3 separate regions of the Homo sapiens genome follow, and all the other regions are linked to region 2. Evidence: fine-mapped expression QTL. A gene starts in region 2. Each other region holds a variant in brackets. All regions are shown on one strand. Distances are from middle to middle.

Evidence for each region. PIP is the estimated chance that this variant, and not a neighbour inherited with it, causes the effect.
Region 1: its variant is fine-mapped to the expression of RGL3 in lung (GTEx, PIP 0.92).
Region 3: its variant is fine-mapped to the expression of RGL3 in whole blood (TOPMed, PIP above 0.99).

Annotation. Positions count from the first base shown.
Region 1 is chr19:11,391,100-11,401,544 of GRCh38, reverse strand. It overlaps RGL3 (ral guanine nucleotide dissociation stimulator like 3), which reads left to right. Exons shown (of 19, transcript NM_001035223.4): 14 at 1,248-1,343; 15 at 1,437-1,505; 16 at 1,594-1,690; 17 at 3,948-4,100; 18 at 4,187-4,301; 19 at 7,025-7,485. The coding sequence ends at 7,143. Among named protein-coding and RNA genes, the nearest start is that of EPOR, 12 kb to the right of the region's middle. The variant A/C (reference allele first, on the strand shown) is at 5,834.
Region 2 is chr19:11,415,074-11,422,263 of GRCh38, reverse strand. RGL3 (ral guanine nucleotide dissociation stimulator like 3) reads left to right here and starts at 2,950. Exons shown (of 19, transcript NM_001035223.4): 1 at 2,950-3,018; 2 at 3,480-3,593; 3 at 5,205-5,428; 4 at 5,597-5,650; 5 at 6,116-6,327. The coding sequence starts at 2,986. It overlaps ODAD3 (outer dynein arm docking complex subunit 3), which reads left to right. Exons shown (of 13, transcript NM_145045.5): 11 at 432-587; 12 at 1,052-1,136; 13 at 1,317-1,659. The coding sequence ends at 1,429. RefSeq lists an enhancer at 841-890.
Region 3 is chr19:11,325,593-11,336,037 of GRCh38, reverse strand. RAB3D (RAB3D, member RAS oncogene family) reads left to right here. Exons shown (of 5, transcript NM_004283.4): 3 at 255-373; 4 at 467-591. It also overlaps a transcript of TSPAN16 not described here. Among named protein-coding and RNA genes, the nearest start is that of RAB3D, 8.8 kb to the left of the region's middle. The variant A/G (reference allele first, on the strand shown) is at 5,340.

The DNA.
Region 1 (10,445 bases), 22 kb after region 2:
AGGCGCCTGTAGTCCCAGCTACTTGGGAGGCTGAGGCAGGAGAATGGCGTGAACCCGGGAGGCAGAGCTTGCAGGGAGCCGAGATGGTGCCACTGCACTCCAGCCTGGGCAACAGAGCGAGACTCCGTCTCAAAAAAAAAAAAAAAAAATTAGCTGAATGTGGTGTTGAGTGCCGTTGGTCCCAACTACTTGGGAGGCTGAGGTGGGAGGATTGCTGGAGCCTGGGAGGCAGAGGTTGGAGTGAGCCAAAATCACGCCACTGCAGTTCCAGTCTAGGTGACAGAGTGAGACCCTGTCTCAAAAAAAAAAAAAAAAAAATAGTCACAATTGACCTCTGACCTCAATTTCAACCCCATCTGATTTTCTGACCTCAACTTTAGCATTCAGCTGGCCATTCAACTCAACTGTCCCATCTGTTGACTTCCCCATCTTTGGTCCTATCTGACCCATGACCTTATTCATGACCCCTCATCTGACTCTCTGACCCCAACCCTTGACCCTCAGTTCTGAGTAACTGACTCCAACTTTTATGTTTGACTGTCCAGCTTGACTATGACAACTGTGTCCTTTCTTTCTATATAACTGTGACCCTAACCATTGACCCCAATGGTGACCTGACCCCAGTCTGACCCTGACTTTATTTTATTTATTTATTTATTTATTTATTTATTTATTTATTTATTTATTTTTGAGACAGAGTCTGGCTCTGTTTCCCAGGCTGGAGTGCAGTGGAGTGATCTCGGCTCACTGTAGCCCCCGCCTCCCAGGTTCAAGCAATTCTACTGCCTCAGCCTCCCCGGTAGCCGCAATTACAGGCGCGAGCTACCACACCTGGCTAATTTTTTTTGTATTTTTAGTAGAGACGGGGTTTCACTATATTGGCCAGGCTGGTTTCGAACTCTTGACCCGAAGCAATCCTCTCGCCTCAGCCTCCCAAAGTGCTAGGATTACAGGCGTGAGCCACTGCACCCAGTCCTGACCCTGACTTTAATCCTGACCCAATTTGATTCCTTAGTGCCACCCTGTGAATCTCTTTGTGACCTCCTGACCAGCCATCCTGTCCCATCTCTGATAAGACCTTGATGCTCAATGACCCTCATTTACCACCCTGACCCTGGCATGTGGGGTGCCACCTCTGGCTGCTCCCCCTTACACCCCAAACCCACCTCCCAACTGATTCCAACTCTTATCTCTCCATCCCCTGTATTTCCTGCCCCCACCACCTCATCCACATATTGACCCCTCAGCTACCGGCTCTCCCGGGTCATTGAGCCACCAGCTGCCTCCTGCCCCAGCTCCCCACGCATCCGACGGCGGATCAGCCTCACCAAGCGTCTCAGTGCGTGAGTCTCGGGGTGTGTGTAGGGGCGGTGATGTGGGCAGATATCAGCAAGGGCTGCTCCTGCCTTAGCCTCATCCCCTGTCCCCATCCTTAGGAAGCTTGCCCGAGAGAAAAGCTCATCACCTAGTGGGAGTCCCGGGGACCCCTCATCCCCCACCTCCAGGTGAGCATTCTGCTTGGTGATGGGACTGGGGATCATGGGATCAGGAGTCAGCACAGCCACCCCACCTCAGCCTCTGCATCTCCCCCAGTGTGTCCCCAGGGTCACCCCCCTCAAGTCCTAGAAGCAGAGATGCTCCTGCTGGCAGTCCCCCGGCCTCTCCAGGGCCCCAGGGCCCCAGCACCAAGGTACCAAGACGGCTTGTGTGTGCATGCGGGCCTGCGGGCACCCAGGCTCTGTGTGTGTGCACGTGTGTGTGCATGCACATGTGTACACACAGGATTGTGGGGCCAGGAGTGTATACAGGAGGCACACTGAGCGCCCGGGGTATCCATCCAGGGGATTGCATGCATCTGCACGGCCCTGTTTGGGTGATCACTCATAAATCCGACTCGTGCTCAGATTTGGACCTGTGTAACTGCTTGCCCATGGGTCATCTAGGGTGCAATCACATCACACCCCTTTTTATTTGAAACAGGGTCTTCTTGCTCTGTCACCCAGGCTGAAGTGCAGCGGTGCAATCTCAGCTCACCGCAACTTCCACCCCTCCCCCAGGCTCAAGCAATCCTTCCACCTCAGCCTCCCAAGTAGCTAGGACCACAGGTGTGCACCACCATGCCCTGCTATTTTTTTTATTTAGTAGAGATGAGGTTTCGCCATGTTGCCCAGGTGGGTTTCGAACTCCTGAGCTCAAACAATGCACTCACCTCGGCCTCCCAAAGTGCTGGGATTACAGGTGTGAGCCACCGCACCCAGCCTACACTTTTTTGAGGACATGTATGTCCCTAAGAATCTGCATACCATGGCAGACACGGTGGCTATTGCCTGTGATCCCGGCACTTTGGGAAGCCAAAGTGGGAGGATTGCTTGAGGCCGGGAGTTCAAGACCAGCCTGGGCAACATAGTGAGACCCTATTTCTATTAAAAGTCAAAAAAATTAGCTGGGTGTAGTCCCAGCTACTCAGCAGGCTGAGGTGGAAGGATCGCTTGAGTTTGAGGCTGCAGTGAGCTACGATCATGCCACGGCACTCTAGCCTGCATGATAGAGCGAGATCCTGTTTATGAAGAAAAAGAGACTGGGCACGGTGGCTCACGCCTGTAATCCCAGCACTCTGGGAGGCCGAGGTGGGCGGATCACGAGGTCAAGAGATCGAGACCATCCTGGCCAACGTGGTGAAACCCTGTCTCTACTGAAAATAGAAAAATTAGCTGGGTATGGTCGCGCACACCTGTAGTCCCAGCTACTTGGGAGGCTGAGGCAGGAGAATCACTTGAACCCAGGAGACGGAGGTTGCAGTGAGCTGAGATGGTGCCACTGCACTCCATCCAGCCTGGTGACAGAGCGAGGCTCCCTCTAAAAGAAAAACAAAAAAAGAAAAGGAAATGAAGGAAATGAAGGCTGGGCATGGTAGCTCATGCCTGTAATCCCAGCACTTTGGGAGGCCGAGGCCAGTGGATCACTTGAGGCCAGGAATTTGAGACCAGCCTAGCCAACATGGTGAAACCCCGTCTCTACTAAAAATAAAAACATTAGCTGGGCATAGTGGCACAGGCCTGTAATCCCAGCTACTTGGGAGGGTGAGGCATGAGAATTGCTTGAACCTGGGAGGCAGAGGTTGCAGTGAGCTGAGATGGCACCACTGCATTCCAGCCTGGGTGACAGAGCAAGACTCTGTCTCAAAAAAAAAAGAAAAGAAAAAGAAAAGAATCTGTGTACCAGAAGAGGAAATGTGGGCCTGAGTATTCATGAGATCATGTGTGGGGTTGTTCATTGGCATGGGCTGTGGGTGTATAACCGCTGTCAGCATATGTATGTACACAGGATTTCTTGTGTATGAGCATGGGTTGTGTGTATATGGACACTGTTCATGTCTGTTTCTATAACAGGTAACCAAAGTCTGTATATGGTAGGGTGGTGTATATGCAGGCTTGTGAATGTACTCCAGTTGCATGTCCCAGGCTCTGCATGTGTAGGGGGTAGTAGTATGTTTTCTTGAGATTTTATTTTATTTTATTATTTATTTATTTATTTTTGAGATGGAGTCTTGCTCTGTCACGCAGGCTGGAGTGCAGTAGCGTGATCTTGGCTCACTGCAACCTCTGCCTCTCAAGTTCAAGTGATTCTCCTGCCTCGGCCTCCCAAGTAGCTGGGATTACAGGCATGCGCCACCAGGCCCTGCTAATTTTTGTATTTTTAGTAGAGACGGAGTTTCACCACGTTGGCCAGGCTGGTCTTGAACTCCCGACCTCAAGTGATCCGCCCACCTCGGCCTCCCAAAATGCTGAGATTACAGGCATGAGCCACTGCGCCCAGCCAATGTTTTCTTGAGATTTTAAATGTGGGGCTATTGAATGCACCAGTGGTGGCTGGGGTGTTCGTGCTTTTCTAGCCCTCAGCATCTGCAGATGGGCCAAGCTGTAGCCTCCACCCCTTACTGCCTGCAGCTGCCCCTGAGCCTGGACCTGCCCAGCCCCCGGCCCTTCGCTTTGCCTCTGGGCAGCCCTCGAATCCCCCTCCCGGCGCAGCAGAGCTCGGAGGCCCGTGTCATCCGCGTCAGCATCGACAATGACCACGGGAACCTGTATCGAAGCATCTTGGTGAGGGGCTGGGCTGGGGGTCTGCTGGAGGCTGCCCTGCCCTTGGGGCCGGGGCCCTCACCTCACCTCCCGCCCCTCTCTTCCAGCTGACCAGTCAGGACAAAGCCCCCAGCGTGGTCCGGCGAGCCTTGCAGAAGCACAATGTGCCCCAGCCCTGGGCCTGTGACTATCAGCTCTTTCAAGTCCTTCCTGGGGACCGGGGTGAGCAGGGATGGGTTGGAGCTCAGGATAGGGGGCAGCGGGGAGGCGAGCAGACTGACCACGCCCAAGGATGGAGCCCAAGGTTACCCGGGTTCACAGGGCTGTGAGGTGCTTCAGGCAGAGAGTAGGGGTAAGATAATCAGTGGAGGTAAGAGGACATAAAATACCTGTAACCCAACGATGTAGGGTCATGAGATTGTCTTGGCTCAGTGTGAGAGAGAGGTACCAAAGGTCATCTTCCTAAAATTTAAAAGACAATAAGATTGTCCAGGGTCCGGCCAGGCGCAGTGGCTCATGTCTGTAATCCCAGCACTTTGGGAGGTCAAGCTGGGCGGATCACTTGAGGTCAGGAGTTTGAGACCAGGCTGACCAACGTGGTGAAACCCCGTCTCTACGAAACATACAAAAATTAGTCGGGTGTGGTGGCACACTCCTGTAGTCCCAGCTACTCAGGAGGCTGAGGCAGGAGAATAATTGCTTGAATCTGGGAGGCGGAGGTTGCAGTGAGCCGAGATCATACCACTGCACTTCAGCCTGGGCAGCAGAGCGAGACTCTGTTTAAAAAAAAAAAAAAAAAAAAAGACTGTCCACGGACAAGTGACAGAAGGGAGTGTTTCTGACCTTCAATTTGTAGGATGGGCTGGGCATGGTGGCTCACAACTGTAATCCCAGCACTTTGGGAGGTCAAGGTGGGTGGATTGTCTGAGCTCAGGAGTTTGAGACCAGCCTGGGCAACATGAGGAGACCCCATCTATACAAAAAATAGAGAAATTGGCTGGGTGCGGTGGCTCAACGCCTGTAATCCCGGCACTTTGGGAGGCCAAAGCGGGTGGATCACTTGAGGTCAGGAGTTCGAGACCAGCCTGGCCAACATGGTGAAGCCCCGTCTCTACTAAAAATACAAAAAAATTAGCTGGGCATGGTGGCACATGCCTGTAGTCTCAGCTACTCGGGAGGCTGAGGCAGAAGAATCGCTTGAACCCAGGAGGCGGAGGTTGCAGTGAGCCGAGATCGCACCACTGCACTCCAGCCTGGCGACTGAGCAAGACTCTGTCTCAAAAAAAAAAAAAAAAAAAAAAAAAAAATATATATATATATATATATATAGAGAGAGAGAGAGAGAGAGAGAGAGAGAGAGAGAGATTAGCTGAGCATGGTGGCATGTGCCTGTATTCCCAACTCCAACTACTGGGGAGGCTGAGGTGGGAGGATCACTTGAGCCTAGGAGGTGGAGGCTGCAGCGAGCTGAGATCACGCCACTGCACTCCAGCCTGGGTGACAGAGCAAGACCCTGTCTCAATTAAAAAAAAAAAAGGGGGCCGGGCATGGTGGCTCACGCCTGTAATCCCAGCACTTTGGGAGGCCGAGGCGGGTGGATCACGAAGTCAAGAGATCGAGACCATCCTGGCCAACATGGTGAAGCCTCGTCTCTACTAAAAATACAAAAAATTAGCCAGGCATGGTGGCAGGCGCCTATAGTCCCAGCTACTCAGGAGGCTGAGGCAGAAGAATCACTTGAACCCAGGAGGTGA[A/C]GGTTGCAGTGAGCCAAGATTGCGCCACTGCACTCCAGCCTGGCGACAGAGTGAGACTCCGTCTCAAAAAAAAAGAAAAAATAGATTGTCTAGGGTCGAGTGAGAGAAGGGAGTGTAGAAGTTTGTCTGATCTTAAGTTTGTAGCATCATGAGATTGTTCAGGCTCAACCTGATGGGATGGGAGACTAAAGGGCATCTGGGCTTAGATTTGTGAGAACTAAGTTTGTTCACCACTGGGACCCTGAAGTTATCTGAACTTGGGACGGGAGAGAGGCAAATGGATAGCCGCGGAAGCATGAGATTGTCCTGTCTGACAGGGAGAAGCAAGGGATTGAGCGTATTCACGCTGAAGTACATGGCATGAGGTTGGCTGGATATTAGGAAAGGATGCTTGTGGTTGTTCAGGTGTTGAGTGTGAGGCCACAAGCTCGTGCAGGCTGGAAGTGGGAAGTTATTCAAGTTCATGGTGACAGCAGCATGGGATTGGCTGGGAGTGGTTGTGGGGGAGGGGTAGGGTGAGCAGGAAGTTGTTTGGCGGGGGGTGGTCTAGGGTGGTCTAAGTTTGCCCAAACTTTTACTGCAGGTTGTCGGTTTTGTTTGTTTTTGTTTTTTTTTTTTTGAGATGGAGTCTCGTGCTGTTGCCCAGGCTGGAGTGCAATGGCAGGATCTCGGCTCACCGCAACATCCACCTCCTGGGTTCAAGAGATTCTCCTGCCTCAGCCTTCCGAGTAGCTGGGATTACAGGCATGTGCCACCATGCCTAGCTCATTTTTTTGGTATTTTTAGTAGAGACGGGGTTTCACCATGTTGGCCAGACTGGTCTCGAATTCCTGACCTCAAGTGATCCACCCACTTCGGCCTCCCAAAGCGCTGGGATTACAGGCACGAGGCATCGCGCCCGGCCAGTTTGCTCAAACTTTTACTGCAGGTTGCCTTGTCTCTATGGTGAGGGGGAGAATATTAGGAGGTTGCCCAGGCTTATGATAAGGGAAGGCATGAGGTGGTGCAAGTTTTCAAGTGAGAAGTCGTCCAGGTTCCCAGTGACAGCAGAATGAGCTTGGCTTGGCAGTAGCTGCAGAGGGACCCATGGCTGTTCAGGTTCGCGGGTGAGTGGCAGGAGGCTCCCGGGTCCTCTGTGGGGGTGACACAAGGTTGTGAGGGCCTATTACCACCATCTCCACTCCTGACCAGTGCTCCTGATTCCTGACAATGCCAACGTCTTCTATGCCATGAGTCCAGTCGCCCCCAGAGACTTCATGCTGCGGCGGAAAGAGGGGACCCGGAACACTCTGTCTGTCTCCCCAAGCTGAGGCAGCCCTGTCCTCTCCACAAGACACAAGTCCCACAGGCAAGCTTGCGACTCTTCTCCTGGAAAGCTGCCATCCCCCAGTAGAGGCCACTGTGCTGTGTATCCCAGGACCACCACCCAACTGTAGCCCATTGGACCCCATCTCTTTTTCTGACTCTGTTGGTACTAGATCCATATTCCAAAGACATCAGCCCATGGGTGGCTGGTGGAGAGCTCAATCCCATAAATGTAGAAAGAGGTGGGGCATGGATACGTCAAATCCCTCCCCAGAGAAATCTTATAAATGTTAGAGACGCATCAGAAGTGACAGATGCGGATGAAAATAGTGACCAGAGTTATGAAACAGGTGTCAGTCTTGTTTATTTTGCGCCTGTGTGCCATGTTCACCCTTTATCAAGATAAAGGAAAACAGCTACCACACACACACCCACACACACACACACAAACACACAGAGAGAGAGAAACCTAAGAGCCAAGACCAGCCCGGGCAACATAACGAGATCCTGTCTCTACAAAAAATACAAAAATTTGGCTGGGCGTGGTGACTCACGCCTGTAATCCCAGCGTTTTGGGAGGCCAAGGCAGGCAGATCGCCTGAGGTCAGGAGTTCGAGACCAGCCTGGCCGACATGGCAAAACCCCATCTTCTAAAAGTACAAAAAATTAGCCGGGCGTGGTGTCATGCACCTGTAATCCCAGCTACTGGGGAGGCTGAGGCAGGAGAATTGCTTGAACCCGGAAGGTGGAGGTTGCAGTGAGTGGAAATCACACCACTGTACTCCAGCCTGGGTGACAGAGCAAGACCCTATCTCAAAAACAAACAAACAAACAAATGAACAAACAAAAAATTTTCTGAGTGTGGTGATATGAGACTGTAATCCTACCTACTTGGGAGGCTGAGCTGGGAGAATCACCAGAGCCCTGGGAGGTTGAAGCTGCAGTGAGCAGTGACTGGGCCCCTGCACTCCAACCTGGAGGACAGAGGGAGATCCTGTCTCAAAAACAAAAAAACTAAGAGCCCTAAGAAAGGTGTTGAGTCGGGTATGACACTCAACCCAGATGCCAGAGAGGATCCTGTCTGGCCGGACACAGTGGCTCAGGAGGGTAATCCCAGTACTTTGGGAGGCTGAGGTAAGAGGATTGCTTAAGTTCAGGAGTCCGAGAGCAGCCTGGGCAATACAGTGAGATCACATCTCACTAAATAAATAAATAAAGGATCCTATCACACAAAGAGGGTTTAGGACTTCCTTCCCCAACATTTTTGGGGTGATATGCCTCTTTTCTACTGTATATATGGGAGAGTGACTAACTGAAATTCCATCAGAATTAGAAACAAATAGCATCATTACCCATGAGTCAATAAGGGCTGTGAGGATGGGCCCTTTCACTTGCCCTCACCTTCTTCCTCTTCCTGTCACAGATAACCCATCTGTGCAAAGAAGAGAAAAAGAGGTTGGGTGTGGTGGCTCACATCTGTAATCCCAGCACTTTGGGAGGCTAAGGTGGAAGGATTTTGAGCCCAGGAGTTTGAGACCAGCCTGGGCAACATAGTGAGACCCCATTTCTACAAAAAAATACAAAGATTGGCCAGGCGCGGTGGCTCACGCCTGTAATCCCAGCACTTGGGAGGCTGAGGCAGGCGGATCATGAGGTCAGGAGATCGAGACCATCCTGGCTAGGTGAAACCCCGTCTCTACTAAAAATGCAAAAAAATTAGCCGGGCGTGGTGGCGGGCGCCTGTAGTCCCAGCTACTCGGGAGGCTGAGGCAGGAGAATGGCGTGAACCCAGGAGGCGGAGCTTGCAGCGAGCCGAGATCGCACCACTGCACTCCAGTCTGGGCGACAGAGGGAGACTCCATCTCAAAAAATAAAATAAAATTTAGCCAGGTTTGGTGTCCTGCACCTGTAGTCTCAGCTACTCTGGAGGCTGAAGCACGAGGATCACTTGAGCCCAAGAGGTGGAGGTTGCAGTGAGCCGAGATTACTGCACTCCAGCCTGGGTGACAGAGCGAGATCCTGTTTCAAAAAGCAAAAAAAAGGGCCAGGCGCAGTGCTCACACCTGTAATCCCATCATTTTGGGAGGCTGAGGTGGGCGGATCACTTGAGGTCAGGAGTTCAAGGTCAGCCTGGCCAACATGGTAAAACCCTGTCCCTACTAAAAAATATAAAAATTAGCTGGGCATGGTGGTGGGTGCCTGTAATCCCAGTTACTCAGGAGGCTGAGGCAGGAGAATTGCTTGAATCCAGAAGGTGGAGGTTGCAGTGAACCGAGATCATGCCATTGCACTCCAGCCTGCGTGACAAAGTGAGACTGTATCTCAAAAAAAAAAAAAAAAATGCTGGGCACAGTGGCTCTAGCACTTTGGGGGGGCAAGACGGGTGGATTGCTTGAGGCCAGGATTCCAAAACCAGCCTGGCCAACATGGTGAAACCCCTTCTCTACTAAATATACAAAAAATTAGCCGGGCATGGTGGCAGGCTCTTGTAATCCCAGCTACTCGGTAGGCTGAGGCAGGATAATCACCTGAACCAGGCAGGCAGAGGTTGCAGTGAGTCGAGATCGCTCCACTGCACTCCGGCCTGGGCAACAAGAGCAAAATTCTGTCTGGAAAAAAAAAAAAAAGAAAAAGAAAAGGATTGTGAGGATGAAAAGAGAGGCGTGAGCTCTCTGTCAGCGTTGGAGTACAATAGAGAGGATGAAATGAGCTGTAGGGCGAACTGCTACATAGTCACAACCACAATAATATGCCCACTTATGAGCTCCTACTCAGCAGAGAACATCAGCTATGGTCTTTACATCTCATTGCACTAATCGAGTTCTTTCTGTTGCAAGCGACCAAAAACCCAATTCAAAGAGGCATGTGCAAAAAAGGACATTTGTGGCTTATGCAGTTGAAATGTCCAATGAGTAGGGCTTCAGGCACAGTTGCATCCAGGCACTCATAAGATGTCATCAGGGTTTTCTTGCTGTCTCTTTGCTCTGATTTGCTCTGAGAATGAGATAGTCCATTGTCCCCTCAAATTTAATCACCTTCTTCTATGGTAATGGAACCACTGATTTTTAGCTGGCCTCCCAAAGTAAAAGCCATATTTCCCACCTCCTCTGCAGCAAGGTGTGGTCATATCTGGCCACTGGCTAAGTCTTGGCCAATAAGATATAAAGGGAAAGGATGTGAACAAATTTCAGAACCTGCCCTTAAAGGGAAGCGGTGTGTCCTTCTTTTCCCCCTTTCCTCCCTCCTGCTGGTGGGAATGAAGACGTGGAGTGGATCATTTTGGATTAGGTGGTTCACACTGTCTGAA
Region 2 (7,190 bases):
CCCAAGGAAGCCCAAGACGTCAGAGACCCTGTCCCGTCTCAAGCTCCGCCTCCAAGGGAAAGAAGTCCCACCCTGTCCCCGAAAAGCTCGGAGACCTATCTGCAGTTCTGGAGCAGCCCGAGACAGAAGACCTATCCTGCCCGCAGCAGAGGGCCATTTCTTCAGGAGGCCATCCCACAATGGCCTCCCTCGAATCCTTACTGTTCCCAAGAGGCCTCCCCGAAACCTTTACATATAGAGTTAGAGTTCAGAGGCTCCCCCATCACAGACGTGGCCTTGACCTAAGTCCCCGCCCCCAATGGCTAGGATCGACCCTGCAGGTGGGCCCTTACCTCCTAGGCCCCGCCCCCGAAAGAAAAGCCCCGCCCCTGGGTGGAGCCTTCCAAGAGGCCCCACCCCTCTCGGCTGACCCGGCTCTACCCTGGCCGCAGGAGGACGGCCGCTTCGCGGGAAAGGAGCTGGATCCCCAGGCAGATAACTATGTGCCAAACCTGCTGGGCCTCGTGGAGGAAAAGCTGCTGAAACTGCAGGCGCAGCTCCAGGGCCACGACGTGCAGGAGATGCTGTGCCACATCGCTAACCGCGAGGTGCCCTGCAGCCATGGGGCAGAGCTCCAGAGATCTAGGAGTAGGGCTGGGTCGGAAAACCAGGGAACCGGGGGCAACTTCGGGAGACCAGATTGCAGGCTGATCAGCCAGGAAGGGGTCTCGGGGACAACGGGCGAGGTTTGACGAGCCAGGGGTGAGCCCGAGCCACGAGGGAAGAAACCAGAAGAGGTGCAGGCGGGTCCTGTGAGGCTAGAGGACGCGGCTGGGGTATCCGGATGGGGAGAGGCCTAGTGGCAGGGCCCCAGAGACCAGGGGCGGACCTGAGTGATGAGGGGGTGAAGCTGGGTATCAAGGTGCCTGCTTAAGGAGGGATGGGAGTGGGCAGTGGTCTCCAGTTGGAACTAGGGCATATCTCGGAATGGGGTAGGGAGGAGGGGGAACGTGACTTCTCGGTGGCCCCTGGCCCCGCCCACCTTCCTCTCTCGCTTCCCATCCCCGCTTAGTTCCTCGCCAGCTTAGAGGGAAGGCTGCCCGAATACAACACCCGCATCGCCCTGCCCCTTGCCACTTCCAAGGACAAGTTTTTTGGTCAGTATGGGTGGGGGGATGAAGGGGTGCGGTTGGGGCCCCAAGCTGGGTAGCAGGAGGTTGTCAGATACCCTGTTCAGGGCCAAGGTGGGGGTGGAGTGGGGTGGTAAAGGGAAGGGGAGCCAGGGATGGGGACCTGGATCCCACATCGCTCCCTGCTCATCCCCCCACCCCCCTTAGACGAAGAGAGTGAGGAGGAGGACAACGAGGTAGTGACCCGCGCATCACTCAAGATCCGTTCCCAGAAATTAATCGAAAGTCACAAGAAGCACCGTCGCTCTCGGAGGTCCTAGACTCGTCCTGACACCCACCAGGCGGCCCCCTTCGGAGCCCCCGATCCCTCCGGGTCTAGCGCAGGCCCCACGGGGCCCCTTCAGGGGCTGAACGCGGCCCGGACCGGGAACGGAGGCGGCCAGCGGCGCCCGGAGGGGAGGAAGGGGCCGGGCCAGACGTTCCCACAGTAAATCTCCCCAGCTGGGTCCGCCCCGGCCTCAGAGTTGCGCAATAAATGTTACCGACCATGCCCCTGGGTATTCATCTGTTTTTGACCCTGCACCACCCAAGAGACGGCTGTCCCTGAAAACCCAGGGCCACAGACTGCCTCCTCCAACCTGGGTCATGATGACTCCCATCAGCTAGTGACGCAGATGGAGCTTAAAAATGGGAGATGGCCCGATGTAGTGGTTTTATGCCTGTAATCCCAGTATTTTGGGAGGCTGAGTTGGGAGGATCACTTGAGTCCAGGAGCTCCAGGCTGCAGTGAGCTATGATCGTGCTACTGCACTCCAGCCTGGGCCACAGAGCCAGACCCTGTCTCAATAAATAAAATAAGGGCGGGGTGCAGTGGCTCATTCATACCTATATTCCCAGCACTTTGGGAGGCTGAGCTGGGTGTGTCGCTTGAGCCCAGGGGTTCCAGACTAGCCTGGGCAACATGGTGAAAACCAGTTTTTACCAAAAAAAAAAAAAAAAAAAAAAAAAAAAAAAAAAAAGCTGAGCATGGTGGCATATGCCTGTAGTCCCAGCTACTTGGGAGACTGAGGCAGGAGAATGGATTGAACCCAGGAGGCGGAGATTGCAGTGAGCCAAGATCAAGCCACTGCACTGCAGCCTTGGCAACAGGAGTGAGACCCTGTCTCTAAAAAATAATAAGGCTGGGCGCCGTGGTTCATGCCTGTAATCCCAGCATTTTGGGAGGCTGAGGTGGGCGAATCTCTTGAGGCCAGGAGTTTGAGACCAGCCTGGCAAGTATGGCAAAACCCCGCCTCTACAAAAAATACAAAAATTAGCTGAGCATGGTGGCGGCACCTGTAATCCTAGCTACTTGGGAGGCTGAGGCACAAGAATCCTTTGAATCTGGGAGGCGGAGGTTGCAGTGAGTTAAGATCAAGCCACTGTACTCCAGCATGGGTGACAGAACGAGACTCCATCTCAAAATAATAGCAATAATAATAAAAAGTGGAAGATGCCCCCACACTTGATCAAGCTAGCCCCTTCCACTGGAGGACAGAGGACTCTGGTCTGGGGACACACACATGCCCCCACACAGGAGCTCCCCCACATCTGGGGATACAAAAAAGACCCCTTGGGGACAGATATGTCCTTTCTTCTGGGGACAGATTGATAGGCACCCAGCGGAAGAGCCAGGACCTCTCCTGGGCTGGCGCTGGGTCCGGCTGGAGGCACCCAGAGGCTGGGTCCGGCCTGCCCTGCCCCGCCCCGCCCCAGCAGCTCGGCCGCTCCGCCCCTCTGGCCTCAGCGCCCGGCCACTGCCCGCCGCCCGCCACCCGCCACCCGCCGGCCCTTCCGCCTCACTCAGCGGCGCCACTGAGAGGGACGGGCGCCGGCCATGGAGCGCACAGCAGGCAAAGAGCTGGCCCTGGTAAGGGGACAAGGGATCCCCGGACCCCGCATCCCTGGTGACCCGCAGGTCCAGAAACTCCAAGCGCCCGCCCGTCGGACGGTATCTGCTCCCAATCTGAACTTGCCCTGGAGTCCCCTCCTGGGGACTCGCGGCCCTTGACCCAGTGAAGCGACTGGTTCCTCTTAGGGATGGGGGCGCGAGTCTCTGAGCGCAGTCGGCAGAAAGAGCTAGAGACAGGTTCTATTAGACTGGGCCCTGGGACATCCCCAAATGCCACCCCATGTCCTCAGGACCTGGGAGGAGGGGACCCGCAGCGAGGAGGGGACTAGCCTGGGACCCCAGCCCTAGTCTCGCAGCTTCTGGCCGGGAAGGGGCGTGGGGATGCAGCAGGAGGACTCGGCCCGAGTCCGAGCGGCCAAGGAGGCTGAGGCCCCAGGACCTGTGCCCCTTTGGTGCCCTGAGTCCGCCTGTGCGTCCAGGCACCGCTGCAGGACTGGGGTGAAGAGACCGAGGACGGCGCGGTGTACAGTGTCTCCCTGCGGCGGCAGCGCAGTCAGCGCAGGAGCCCGGCGGAGGGCCCCGGGGGCAGCCAGGTGAGGAGGGGGTTTGGTGGGTGGCGCGGGGCCGGAAGCGACCAGTTGAGGGCGGAGCTGGAGAGCCGAGCACAGGCCGCCAGGTGCAGTGGGCGGAAGGAAGGGAGGGGCTCGGAGGCGACCAGATGAGGCGACCAGGTAGAAAGGGGACTGGGGGCGGCCAGGTAAGTGGGGGGAGATCCAGGGAATGGGGTGGGGCCAGGCGATGGCCGCGCAGTTCCCGAGAGGAGCCTAGGGACAACTTGGTAAGGACAGAACTGGACGGCAGAGTTGGGAAAGGCAGGTTTAGAGGGCCGGGGCTGGAAGGTGGAATGGGGTTGGTTTAGAAGTGGCTAGGTGAGGGCGGATGGGGCAGCCAGTGAAGCGCGACAGGAGGGCTGAGGGAAGCCCTGGGTGGAAAAGAGTGTGTGGGGCGGGGGCGGGGGGGTGGGGGGAGGGGACGGGAGGGGGAGGGGACGGGAGAGGGAGTAGGGGACAGGGCATGGGAGAGGGAGGGTTTCCAGGGCAAGTTGCAGGAGCTATTTGTGGATGGGGAGGAACAATAACTTCAAGCGGGCAGGGAGTGGGGCACACACCTATAATCCCTGCGCTTCGAGAGACCAAGGCAGAAGGCCAGGAATTGGAGACCAGCCTGGACAACACAGCAAGATTCTCTCTAATAAAAATAAAAATTAAAAAACTAGCTGTGCGTGATGATGCCCAGCAGTGGTCCCAGCTACTCAGGAGGCTGGGGCAGAGGGACCGCTTGAGTCTAGGACTTGGAGGCTGCAGTGAGCTATGATTGTGCCACTGCACCCCAGCCTGGGCAACAAAACAAGACCTGTTTCTAAAAAAAACAAACCAAAACAATAACTCCAAGAAGCCGGGAGACAGAGGAATCACATGAAAGAATGGTGCTACAGGCGGGGCGAGGTGGCTCACGCCTGTAATCCCAGCACTTTGGGAGGCCGAGGCAAGTGGATCATCAGGTCAGGAGTTCAAGACCAACCTGGCCAAGACGGTGAAACACCGTCTCTACTAAAAATACGAAAAAACTAGCTGGGCTTGGTGGCGGGTGCCTGTAATCCCAGATACTTGGGAGGCTGAGGCAGAGAATTGCTTGAACCCAGGAGGCGGAGGTTGCAGTGAGCCAAGATCACGCCACTGAACTCCAGCCTAGGTGACAGAGTGAGATTCTGTCTCAAAAAAAAAAAAAAAAAAGTGGTGCTAGGGGCTGGGCACGGTGGTTCACGCCTGTAATCCTAGCCCTTTGGGAGACTTTGGGAGGCCAAGGGGGGCAGATTACTTGAGGTCAGGAGTTCGAGACCAGTCTGACCAACATGGTGAAACCCTATCTCTACAAAAATACAAAAATTAGCTGGGCTTGGTGGTGTGCGCCTGTAGTTTCAGCTACTTGGAGGCTGAGGAAGGAGGATTGCTTGAACCCAGGAGGCAGAAGTTGAAGTGACCCAAGATCGTGCCACTGCACTCCAGCCTGGGCAACAGAGTGAGACTCTGTCTCAAAAAAAAAAACAAAAAAAAAAAGAGTGGTGCTAGTGATGAATGTGACTAGAGAAGGGGTGCTGTGAGGACCACTCCTGCTCTCTCATGGCCACCTCTCCCCTCCTGCAGGCTCCCAGCCCCATTGCCAATACCTTCCTCCACTATCGAACCAGCAAGGTGAGGGTGCTGAGGGCAGCGCGCCTGGAGCGGCTGGTGGGAGAGTTGGTGTTTGGAGACCGTGAGCAGGACCCCAGCTTCATGCCCGCCTTCCTGGCCACCTACCGGACCTTTGTACCCACTGCCTGCCTGCTGGGCTTTCTGCTGCCACCAATGCCACCGCCCCCACCTCCCGGGTCAGTAGCGAACCATAACCTCCGTATTCTCCACCCTAGAACCCCAACTGGGCACCCCCCTCCACCTCCTCAGGTGTGGAACCTGGAAACACCTCCCAGACCCAGAGCCCTCTTCCTAAGCCCCCTCTAGGTTCCCCCTTCTTCACCTGCTGGGGGGCCTCTTCCCAGGGTAGAGATCAAGAAGACAGCGGTACAAGATCTGAGCTTCAACAAGAACCTGAGGTGGGTCCTTCATCCAGATAGGGGAGTGCGGGGAGGGAAATCCAAGAGGTCAAAGGTTAGCAGTCGGACTGGGGTTTTGAAAATTGCAGGTTGGGTAATAAGAGACTGGGAGTCAGGTGGGGCGTGGTGGCTCATGCCTGTAATCCCAACACTTTGGGAGGCCGAGGCAGGTGGATCACTGGAGGTCAGGAGTTAGAGACCATCCTGGCCAATATGGCGAAACCCTGTCTCTACTAAAAATACAACAACAACAAAAAAAGGTAGCTGGGTGTGGTGGCGCATGCCTGTAGTCCCAGCTACTCGGGAGGCTGAGGTTGCAGTGAGTCAAGATCAGGCCATTGCACTGCAGCCTTGGTGACACAGTAAGACTCTATCTCAAAAAAAAAAAAAAAAAAAAGGTACCAGGAGTCATATTCTATGTCCCCCACTCTGGACCCAGCTCTGAGACCCTGCCTCTCTGGCCAGGGCTGTGGTGTCAGTGCTGGGCTCCTGGCTGCAGGACCACCCTCAGGATTTCCGAGACCACCCTGCCCATTCGGACCTGGGCAGTGTCCGAACCTTTCTGGGCTGGGCGGCCCCAGGGAGTGCTGAGGCTCAAAAAGCAGAGAAGCTTCTGGAAGATTTTTTGGAGGAGGCTGAGCGAGAGCAGGAAGAGGAGCCGCCTCAGGTGTGGACAGGTGAGGGGTTTTCAGATCCAGTCGTGTTCTGAGAAGGCCTTTCCTGTCTGCTTCTTCCCACACAGGCTTTCTCTCCCCTCTCAGAGCTACAAAACTTAAGCAAGATTTTAAACTCTAAGCCTCAATTTCTTCATCTTTACAATGGGGATAATAATTCTTTGTCAGCCGGGCGTGGTGGCTCACGCCTGTATCCCAGCAGTTTGGGAGGCCAAGGATGGTGTATCACCTGAGGTCAGGAGTTTGAGACCAGTCTGACAAACATGGAGAAACCCCATCCCTACTAAAAATACAAAATTAGCCGGGCGTGGTGGGGCATGTCTATAATCCCAGCTATTCGGGAGGCTGAGGCAGGAGAATCGTTTGAACCCGGGAGGCGGAGGTTGCGGTGAGTCGAGATCGTGCCATTGCACTCTCGCCTGGACAACCAGAGCGAAACTCCGTCTAAAAAAAAAAACAAATTCTTTGTCTGAAGTATTAGCATGTGTCTAATACTTTTCCCTCCTTGGTGCCGTTGGGTCAGGATGCTCTGTGTTTCTAGCTACAAACCATTGCCTTGATACTTGTCTTTATTTTCTTTTTTTTGAGTCAGGGTCTTGCTCCGTTGCTCAGGCTGGAGTGCAGTGTCTCCATCATGGCTCAGTGCAGGCTCAACATCCTGGACTCAGGTGATCCTCCCGCCTGGGTCTCCAAAACTGCTGGCATTACAGGCGCGAGCCACTATACCTAGCCTGTAAAATTTTTCTTATTTTTGAATTTCTTTTTAAATTTAATTTAATTTAATTTTATTTTTTTATCTATTTTTTTTTTTAGACAGAGTCTCGCACTGTTACCCAGGCTGGAGTGCAGTGGCACAATCTTGGCTC
Region 3 (10,445 bases), 88 kb after region 2:
CCCCTCAAGGGCAAGCCCAAGTCTCTCCCTCATCAGACTGGGGAGATCCCTTGGTAATGAATCCATGCCTCCCCCATCAGACTGGGGTTGTGAGGGCAGGATCTGTGTATTCTCCATCAGACCAGAGGTTGTACAAGCAAGTCTGTGTCTCCCCCGTAAGGCTGGGGCTATGAGTACAGGGCAGTGCCCCTCTAAGACAGGGGTGGACTGGGAAACAGGTAGTTCCCAGCCAACTGCCACTGCCATTTGTCCAGGACACAGCGGGCCAGGAGCGCTACCGCACCATCACCACGGCCTACTACCGGGGAGCCATGGGCTTCCTGCTCATGTATGACATCGCCAATCAGGAATCCTTTGCCGCTGTGCAGGACTGGTGAGTGCTTGCTGATCATGGACCCCTGATCTTTGCCCTCTCCTCTGACCCCTAACCCCCCCGGCTCATGGCTCACCACTGGTAACTCTGCAGGGCCACGCAAATCAAGACCTACTCCTGGGACAACGCCCAGGTCATCCTGGTGGGGAACAAGTGTGACCTGGAGGACGAACGTGTTGTGCCTGCTGAGGATGGCCGGAGGCTCGCCGACGACCTTGGTTAGTGCCCAGCCTGGGCCACAGGCCCTGGTCTCCCAGAACCAAACCCTCATCCCCATCCTCTGATTCAGGGTCCAACCCAGTCACTGATCCTTTGAGGATCTGCCCAGGAAGATACCCATGTGTATGCCACATGTCCCGTCTAATTGCAGGGGATCCACGCGCAGGAACTCCCACTGCCCCACTGCCTATCCCCTGGGAACCCAGCAAAACCATTTCTGGAAATTGATCCTAGAGATATCCTCACCCATGTGGGATATGGTGTGTGGAGTGTAGTAGTAGTATTAGTAGGAGTGAAACCTACAGATCCCCCCCAGGTGTCTCACAGTTGGAGAACCAAGTGGACATAAAGTATATTCACATGGTGGAATACTATGCAGCCATGGAAAAGGATGGGGATGTTCTTTATTTTTTTATTTTTTATTTTTTTGAGACGGAGTCTCGCTCTGTCGCCCAGGCTGAAGTGCAGTGGCGCGATCTCGGCTCACTGCAAGCTCCGCTTCCCAGGTTTATTTTATTTTTTTGAGTTGGAGTCTCACTCTGTCACCCAGACTGGAGTGCAGTGGTGCCGTATTGGCTCACTGCAGCCTCCACCTCCCAGGTTCAAGCAATTCTCCTGCTTCAGCCTCCCAAGTAGCTGGTACTACTGGCGCGTGCCACATGCCCAGCTAATTTTTTATATTTTTAGTAAAGATGGGGTTTCACCATGTTAGCCAGGATGGTCTCCATCTCCTGACCTCGTGATCTGCCCGCCTTGGCCTCCCAAAGTGCTGGGATTACAAGCGTGAGGCACCATGCCTGGCCTTTTTTTTTAATTTTGCGTGGAGATAGGGTCTCGCTATGTTTCCCAGGCTGGCCTCGAACTCCTGACCTTAAGTGATCCTCCCTCCTCAGCCTCCCAAAGTGCTAGGATTGCAGGCATGAGCCACCACACCAGCCCAAGGGGATGTTCTTTATGGTTTGTTTTTGTTTTTGTTTGAGATGGAGTCTCCCTCTGTTGCCCAGGCTAGAGTGCAGTGGTGCGATCTTGGCTCACTGCAACCTCTACCTCCTGCATTCAAGTGATTCTCCTTCCTCAGCCTCCTGAGTATCCAGGATTACAGGTGTGCGCAGCATGCCTGACTCATTTTTGTATTTTCAGTAGAGATGGGGTTTTGCCATGTTGGCCAGGCTGGTCTTGAACCCCTGACAGGTGATCCACCTGCCTCAGCCTCCCGAAGTGTTGGGATTACAGGCGTGAGCCACCGTGCCTGGCTGTTTTGTTCTAGCAAAATAGTGGATACGACTGCTTTCTTTAGTCCAGGAGTCAGCAAACCTTTTCTTAAAGGGCCAGATAGTAAATATTTTTGGCCATACAGTCTCTATGGCAACTACCCAACTCTGCATGACAGCAGCCACAGACAATGCATAAATGAATGGGTGTGACTGTTTGCCAATAAAACTTTATTTGTGGCCGGGCGTGGTGGCTCATGCCTGAAATCCCAGCACTTTGGGAGGCTGAGACAGGCAGATCACCTGAGGCCAGGAGTTCTAGACCAGCCTGGCCAACATGGCAAAACCCCGTCTCTACTAAAAATGCACAAAAATTAGCCGGGCATGGTGACAGACGCCTGTAATCCCAGCTACTTGGGAGGCTGAGGCAGAAGAATCACTTGAACCTGAGAGGTGGAGGCTGCAGTGAGCCGATATCACGCCACTGCACTCCAGCCTGGGCAATGGGGGGAGACTCTGTCTCAAAAGAAAAAAAAAAAAAGGAAAGAAAGAAACTGATGCTTGCAATCAGTTTTTAACCCCAGCTTTCCCATAAGCCCCATCCAAGCCAGCACCCTATGTGCAAAATTCAGAAGGCACAGGAAGAGACTAAGGCAATAACCCACTCCCCACCTGCAGTTCTGGTCTCCCAGCTTCTCTGATTCTTGTATCTCTTTCCAGAAATATGCTGAGCACCCACAGGCATTGACAACACATTGGCTACTTTTTTGTTTTACACAGATGTTCCCTACTGTATATACCCTTTCCTGCACTTTGAACTTTTCTACTAAATAATATATCCTAGAAATATTTCTCTGCCGGGCGCAGTGGCTCACGCTTGTAATCCCAGCACTTTGGGAGGCCGAAGAGGGCGGATCATGAGGTCAGGAGATCAAGAACATCCTGGCTAACACTGTGAAACTCCATCTCTACTAAAAATACAAAAAAATTAGCCAGGCGTGGTGGTGGGCGCCGGTAGTCCCAGCTTCTCGGGAGGCTGAGGCAAGAGAATGGTGTGAACCCGGGAGGCGGAACTTGCAGTGAGCCAAGATCACGCCACTACACTCCAGCCTGGGTAGAAGAGCAGGACTCTTTCTCAAAAAAAAAAAAAAAAAGAAATATTTCTCCATCAGCCCCAGAGCTGGCTCATTCTTTTGCATGGCTGTGTACTATTCCATTTCGTGTTTCCTTAACCTTTTCCTCTGTTGACAGCCATGGAGATTATTTCTAGCCTTTTCCTCTGACAAATGCAGCTGCAGCAGTCATTTTTACATATATTTCTTTGGACACATGAGGCAAGAAATCTGCCAGCTTGATTCACAGATGTTCTTAACACTTTTTTTTTTTGAGATGGAGTCACTGCACCTGGTTGGTTTTTATAGTCCCGGCCTACACTTTTTTAAAAAAATAACTTTGGCCAGGAATGGTGGCATGTGCTTGTAATCCCAGCTACTCTGGAGACTGAATTAGGAGGATTGCTTCAGGCCAAGAATTTGAGACCAGCTTGGGCAATATAGCGAGACCCTGTCTCAAAAAAGGAAGAAAATAATAACTTTTTGTGATAAAAATGTTCAAATACTCTCAGCACATTGGGAGGGCAAGGTGGGTAGATCGCTGAAGCCCAGGACTTTGAGACCAGCCTGGTCAACATGGTAAACCCTGTCTCTACAAAAAAATGCAAAAATTAGCTAAGCATGGTGGCTCACACCTATAGTCTCAGCTACTCAGGAGGCTGAGGTGGGAGGATCGCTTGAGCCTGGGAGGCAGAGGTTGCATTGAGCCAAGATTGCACCACTGTATGCCAGCCTGGGTGACAGAGTGAGACCTTGTCTCAAAAAACAATGAAATAAAATGAGAAATGTTCGGCCAGGCGTGGTGGCTCACGCCTGTAATCCCAGCACTTTGGGAGGCCGAGGCAGGCGGATCACCTGAGGTCAGGAGTTTGAGACCAACCTGACCAACATGGTGAAACCTCATCTCTACTAAAAATACAAAATTAGCCGGTCGTGGTGGCGCATGCCTGTAATTCCGGCTACTCAGGAGGCTGAGGGAGGAGAATCACTTGAACCCAGGAGGCGGAGGTTGTGTGAGCTGAGATCGCACCATTGCACTCCGGCCTGGGTAAGAAGAGTGAAACTCCATCTAAGAAAAGTTCAAATACATTCACAAGTAGAAAGGAATGTATAATAGACTTTGATAAAACATTATTCAGCTTAATTAGGTCTCAACATTTTTTCAATCTTGAATCATCTATTCCCCCAAAATACTTTTCCTTTTTTTCCTAGAGCATTGAGAGCAAACCCTTGACATCGAAACCTTTTGTCTGTAAACACTTCACTATGCAACTCCAGCTGTTTTGTTGTCGTCGTCGTTTTTTAAATAATAGAGACAGAGCCTCACTCTTTCACCCAGGCTGGAGTACAGTGGTGTGATCCCACCACTTTAGGAGGCTGAGGAGGGAGGATTGCTTGAGCCCAGGGGTTAGAGACCAGCCTGGGCAACATAGTGAGACCCCAACTCTACAAAATAAGTTTAAAGCTCCCTGTAGCCTCAGACACCTGGGCTCAAGTGATTCTGCTGCCTCAGCCTTTCAAGTAGCTGGGACTACTAGTATAAGCCAGCACACTGGCTAATTTTTTATTTTTATTTTTTGTAGAGATGAGGTCTCACTATATTGCCCAGGCTGGTCTTGAACTCCTGGGCTCAAGCAGTCGGCCTGCCTCAGCCTCCCAAAGTGCTGGGATTACAGGCATGAGCCACGGCACCTGGTTGGTTTTTACATTTTTAAGTGGTTGAAAAAAAATAATATGACATGGGAAATTTATATGAAATTCAAATTTGTATCTATAAATGAAGTTTTTCTGAGACACAGCTATACCCTTTTAAAAGAATTTTTTTTTTACACGGAGTCTTGCTCTTGTCGCCCAGGCTGGAGTGCAATGGCGTGATTTCGGCTCATTGCCACCTCCGCCTCCCCAGTTCAAGTGATTCTCTTGCCTCAGCCTCCTGAGTAGCTGGGATTACAGGCACCCACCACCACGGGGCCTGGCTAATTTTTGTATCTTTAGTAGAGATGGGGTTTCACTATGTTAGCCAGGCTGGTCTGGAATTCCTGACCTCAGGTGATCCACCCGCCTCAACCTCCCAACCATTTATTTTTTAAATTTTTTTTTTTTTTTTGAGGCAAGGTCTCTCTCTGGTGCTCAGGCTGGAGTGCAGTGGCACGATCATAACTCAAAGCAGCCTCCAACTCCTGGGCTCAAGTGATCCTCCCACCTCAGCCTCCCAAGTAGCTGGGATGCCAGGTGTACTCCACCACACCTGCCTAATTAAAAAAAAATTTTTTTGCCGGGCGCAGTGGCTCATGCCTGTAATCCCAGCACTTTGGGAGGCCGAGGCGGGTGGATCACAAGGTCAGAAGCTTGAGACCACCCTGGCCAACATGGTGAAACCCCGTCTCTACTAAAAATACAAAAAAATTAGCCGGGTGTGGTGGT[A/G]CACACCTGTAATCCCAGCTACTCAGGAGGCTGAGGCAGGAGAATTGCTTGAACCTGGGAGGCAGAGGTTGCAGTGAGCCGAGATCGTGCCACTGCACTCCAGCCTGGGCAAGAGAGCGAGACTCCGTCTCAAAAAAGAAAAAAATTTTAAGAGATAGGTCTTGCCATGTTGTCTGGGCTGATCTTGAACTCCTGGGCTTAAGCAGTCCTCCCACCTTGGCCTCCCAAAGTGCTGGGATCACAGGAGTGAACTCACACCCGTGCTCAGTTGATGCCTATTTGTTGATGCATTGTCTATGGTTGCTATTTTTATGGTAATCACACGTCTGTGATTACAGGCTGTCTCAATACAGAAAAGGGTATAAACAGTGCTTCAAGCGTGAAATTGAGTAATTGAGACAGAGACCATATGACCCAGAAAGCCTAAAATATTTACGATCTGGCCTTTTACAGAGGAGGTTTGCTGACCTCTAAGCCATAACCAGTCCCTTTCCCCTTTTATTCTTGCCATTGCTTTGTTGGAGAAACTGGATCTCTGTTCTGTGGGGCAGGGCCCTGGATCCCCAGTTAGCCTGGAAGTGGTGAAATCAGTTAACGCCCGCGATGGGCTGGAATACTTGGAGGTGCTTTCCACACCTACTTGCGGATTATATCTGGGGTCTCGGGGTAAAGGGGGATTCTCACTTTCTGTTATTATGTTTAAAATATTGGAGTACAGGCCAGGTTCGGTGGCTCACGCCTGTAATCCTAGCACTTTGGGAGGCTGAAGTGGGCAGATCACTTGATGTCAGGAGTTCGAGACCAGCCTGGCCAACATGGTAAAACCCTGTCTCTACCAAAAATACAAAAATTAGCTGGGTGTGGTGGCACGTGCCTGTAATCCCAGCTACTTGGAAAGCTGAGGTATGAGAACCATTTGAACCCGGGAGGCGGAGGTTGCAATGAGCCAAGATCGCGCCATTGCGTTCCAGCCTGGGTGATGGAGTGAGCCTGTATCTCACACACACACAAAAAGAAGATTGGCATACAAAGCAGGACACAGAATTTGATCCCAATTTTTTTTTCTTTTCTTTTGTTTTATTTTTTTTTTTGAGATGGAGTTTCGCTCTTGTTGCCCAGGCTGGAGTGCAGTGGCACAATCTTGGCTCGCTGCAACCTCCGCCTCCCAGGTTCAAGCAATTCTCCTGCCTCAGCCTCCCGAACAGCTGGGATTACAGGCATGTGCCACCACGCCTGGCTACTTTTGTATTTTTAGTAGAGATGGGGTTTCACCATGTTGGTCAGGCTGGTATCAAACTCCTGACCTCAGGTGATCCGCTGCCTCGGCCTCCCAAACTGCTGGGATTACAGGTGTGAGCCACCACGCCTGGCCTGATTCCAATTTTGTAGGAAAAAAAGCCAGACACACATACATGTGCACACACACATCCCCTACAAACCTAACCCCAACAAATGACATATTTATATAGAAAAAGACTAAAGGCTGGGCATGGTGGCTCATGCCTGTAATCCTTGCACTTTGGGAGGTCAAGGCAGAGGATCACTTGAGTCTAGCAGTTAGAGACCAGCATGGGCAACATGGTGAAGCCCCACCCCTATAAAAAATACCAAAAATCGGCTGTGTGTGGTGGCACACCCCTATAGTCCCAGCTACTTGGGAGACTGAGGGGGGCCCAAGAGTCAAGGCCGTAGTGAGTTATGATTATACCACTGCACTCCAGCCTGGGCAACAGAGGGAGACTCTGTCTTAAAAAAAAAAAAAAAAAGATGAATAAAGACTAGAAAGCTAAATAGCAAAACGCCAACAGTAATTGTTTCCAAGTGATGAGATTACAAATTACTTTTATCTCTATCTCCATACATTTCTTTGTGTTTTTGTTTTGAGACAGGGTCTCACTCTGTTGCCCAGGCTGGAGTGCAATGGCATGACCTCAGCTCACTGCAGCCTCAACTTCCCTGGCTTAGGTCATCCTCCCACCTCAGCCTCCCAAGTAGGTGGGACTACGGGTGCATGCCACCACACCTGGCTAATATTTATTTATTTATTTATTTAGAGATGGAGTCTTGCTCTGTTGCCAGGCTGGAGTGCAGTGGCATAATCTCGGCTCACTGCAACCTACACCTCCCGGGTTCAAGCAATTCTTCTGCCTCAGCCTCCTGAGTAGCTGGGACTGCAGGCACGTGCCACCACACAAAGCTAAATTTTGTATTTTTAGTAGAGACGGGGTTTCACCGTATTGGCCCTGGTCTCGAACTCCTGACCTCGTGATCCGCCCACCTCCGTCTCCCAAAGTGCTGGAATTACAGGCGTGAGCCACCACGCCTGGCACCCCCCAACCTTCTTCTTTTTTTTTTTTTTTTTTTTGAGATAATATCTTGTTCTGTCACCCAGCCTGGAGTACAATGGCACAATCTCGGCTCACTGCAACCTCCGCCTCCCAGGTTCAAGTGATCCTCCTGCTTCAGCCTCCTAAGTAGCTGGGATCACAGGTGTGCACCACCATGGCCAGCTAATTTTTGCATTTTTAGTAGAGACGGGGTTTCATCATGTTGGCCAGGCTGGTCTCAAACTCCAGACCTCAAGTGATCCGCTCACCTTGGCCTCCCAAAATGCTGGTATTACAGGCGTGAACCACCATGCCTGGCCTTAATTTTTATATTTTCTTTAGAGACTGGGTCTTGCTATGTTGCCCAGGCTGGTCTCAAACTTGTGAGCTCAGGTACCCACCTGCCTCAGTCTCCCAAAGTACTGGGATTATAGGCTGTCTTAATACTTTTCTGTAGTTTCTAGTTTCTCCAGTAAATTTCTCTATTGAATGACATCCAAAAAATGTATTTTTTTTCCTTTTTAAAATTTTTATTTGTTTTAGAGACAGGGTCTCCCTATGTTACCCAGGCTGGTCTTGAACTCTTGGGTTCAAGTGATTCTCCTGCCTTGGCCTCCTGAGTAGTTGGGATTACAGGCGCATACCACCACGCCTGATTAATATCAGAAAAATAAGCTGGGCACGGTGGTTCATGCCTGTAATCCCAGCACTTTGGGAAGCTGAGGCAGGTGGATCATCTGAGGTCAAGAGTTCGATACCAGCCTGGCCAAAATAGCGAAACCCTGTCTCTACTGAAAATACAAAAATTAGCCTGGCATGGTGGTTCACACCTGCAGTCCCAGCTCCTTGGGAGGCTGAAGCAGGAGAATCGCTTGAACTCGGGAGACGGAGGTTGCAGTGGGCTGAGATCGTGCCGTTACACTCCAGCCTGGGCGACAAGAGCAAAACTCTGTCTCAACAAAAAGAAAAATAAAGAACACAGATGGTATGAGGCAAAGCCACGCGTGGATAAGGAAACACCAGATTTGCCCAGGAAGACAGTGGGATGGCTTTGATATCTCTGGGCTGACAGTAGGAGATCTAAGTTCATGTCCTGCCCCTGCTATTGTTCATTTACCCATTCATTCATTCAACCATTCAGCAGACAGTTTCTAAGCACCCTCTCTGTGTCGGGCACTGGGTACAGCCATGGGCGGAAATCCTGCCTGCCTGGAGCTGGCTTTCTAGTAGCGGAGACAGATAATAAATGGGTAATTACACAGCTAACTCATTATGATTCCATTTTCATAGTTCAGCATGACGCACAGAGAAGACAGGTCCACTTACCCTTGGCCACGTGTAACGTGGCAGGCGTTTGTCTGAATTCCTGGCTTACCTTGGTGATGTGGCAGGTGGGGCTGCATGGAGATTCAGGGACAGCTCCTCTCAGGCAGACCCTCAGGAACCTTAAAAGGATGCAGGAAGCCCAGCGTGGTGGCTCACGCTGGTAAACCCAGCACTTTGGGAGGCCTAGGCGGGGGGATCGCTTTAGGCCAGCAGTTCAAGACCAGCCTGCGCAACATAGCGAGACCCCCACCTCTACAAAAGAAAAAATTGAAAAATTAGCCGGGCATGGTGGGGCACACCTGTAGCCCCAGCTACTCAGGGGGCCAAGGCGGGAGGATCGCTTGAGCCCAGGAGGTTGAGGCTGCAATGAGCCATGTTCATACCACTACACCCCGGCCTGGGCAATAGAGAGAGACCGTTTCTCTTTTAAAAAAAGCAATGGAAAATGTGACTTGATGGGTCTCCTGACCATGCCTTTCTGTGCAGCAGAAATTGGGTGGAAGCTGAGCTATAGCCACCTGTGGGCACTGCCATGGCCGCAGGGCAGCAGAACTCTTCATGTACCCTCCCACCTATACTCTTGCAGCCACTGCCTTGTGACAAAGAGATCTTAGGATTGTCCAGACCATGGCTGCAGCCGCAGGGTTTCGTTTTGTTTTGTTTTTGAGACAGGGTCTTGCTCCATCACCCAGGCTGGTGTGCAGTGGTGTGATCATGGCTCACTGCTGCCTTGACCTCCTGGGCTCAAACCATTCTCCTGCCTTAACCTTCCGAGTAGCTGAGACTGCAGGTGAACGCCACCATGCCCCTCTATTTTTTTTTTTTTAATAGAATCTCGCTCTGTTGCCCAGGCTGGAGTACAGTGGTGTGATCTCAGCTCACTATAACCTCCGCCTCCCAGATTCAAGCAATTCTCCTGCCTCAGCCTCCCGAGTAGCTGGGATTACAGACGCGTGCCACCATGCCCAGCTAATTTTTTGTCTTTTTAGTAGAGATGGGGTTTCACCATGTTGGTCAGGCGGGTCTTGAACTCCTGACCTCAAATGATCCTCCCGCCTCGGCCTCCCAAAGTGCTGGGATTATAGGCATGAGCCTCCTCACCTGGCCGCCCATCTACTTTTTAAAAAAATTTATTGTAGAGATAGGGCCTTGCTATGTTGCCCAGGCTGGTCTTGAACTCCTGGCCTCAAGCGATCCTCCCGCCGTAGCTTCCTTTAGTGCCAGGATTACAGGCATAAGCCCCTGCGCCTGGCCTGCCACAGATTTTTATCATTGGTAGGATCATCATTCCCATTTTACAGGTGAGCAAACTGAGGCTTGGAGTGGCAAAGGCACACAACCAAGGTCCCACAGCAGGATAAAGAGCAGAACTAGGCTTAGAAGCCAGGTTTCTGTGATGCCACAGCTGAGACTCTGCCCTCAGGGGTCTTACGAGTGTCCCCACCTTAACATT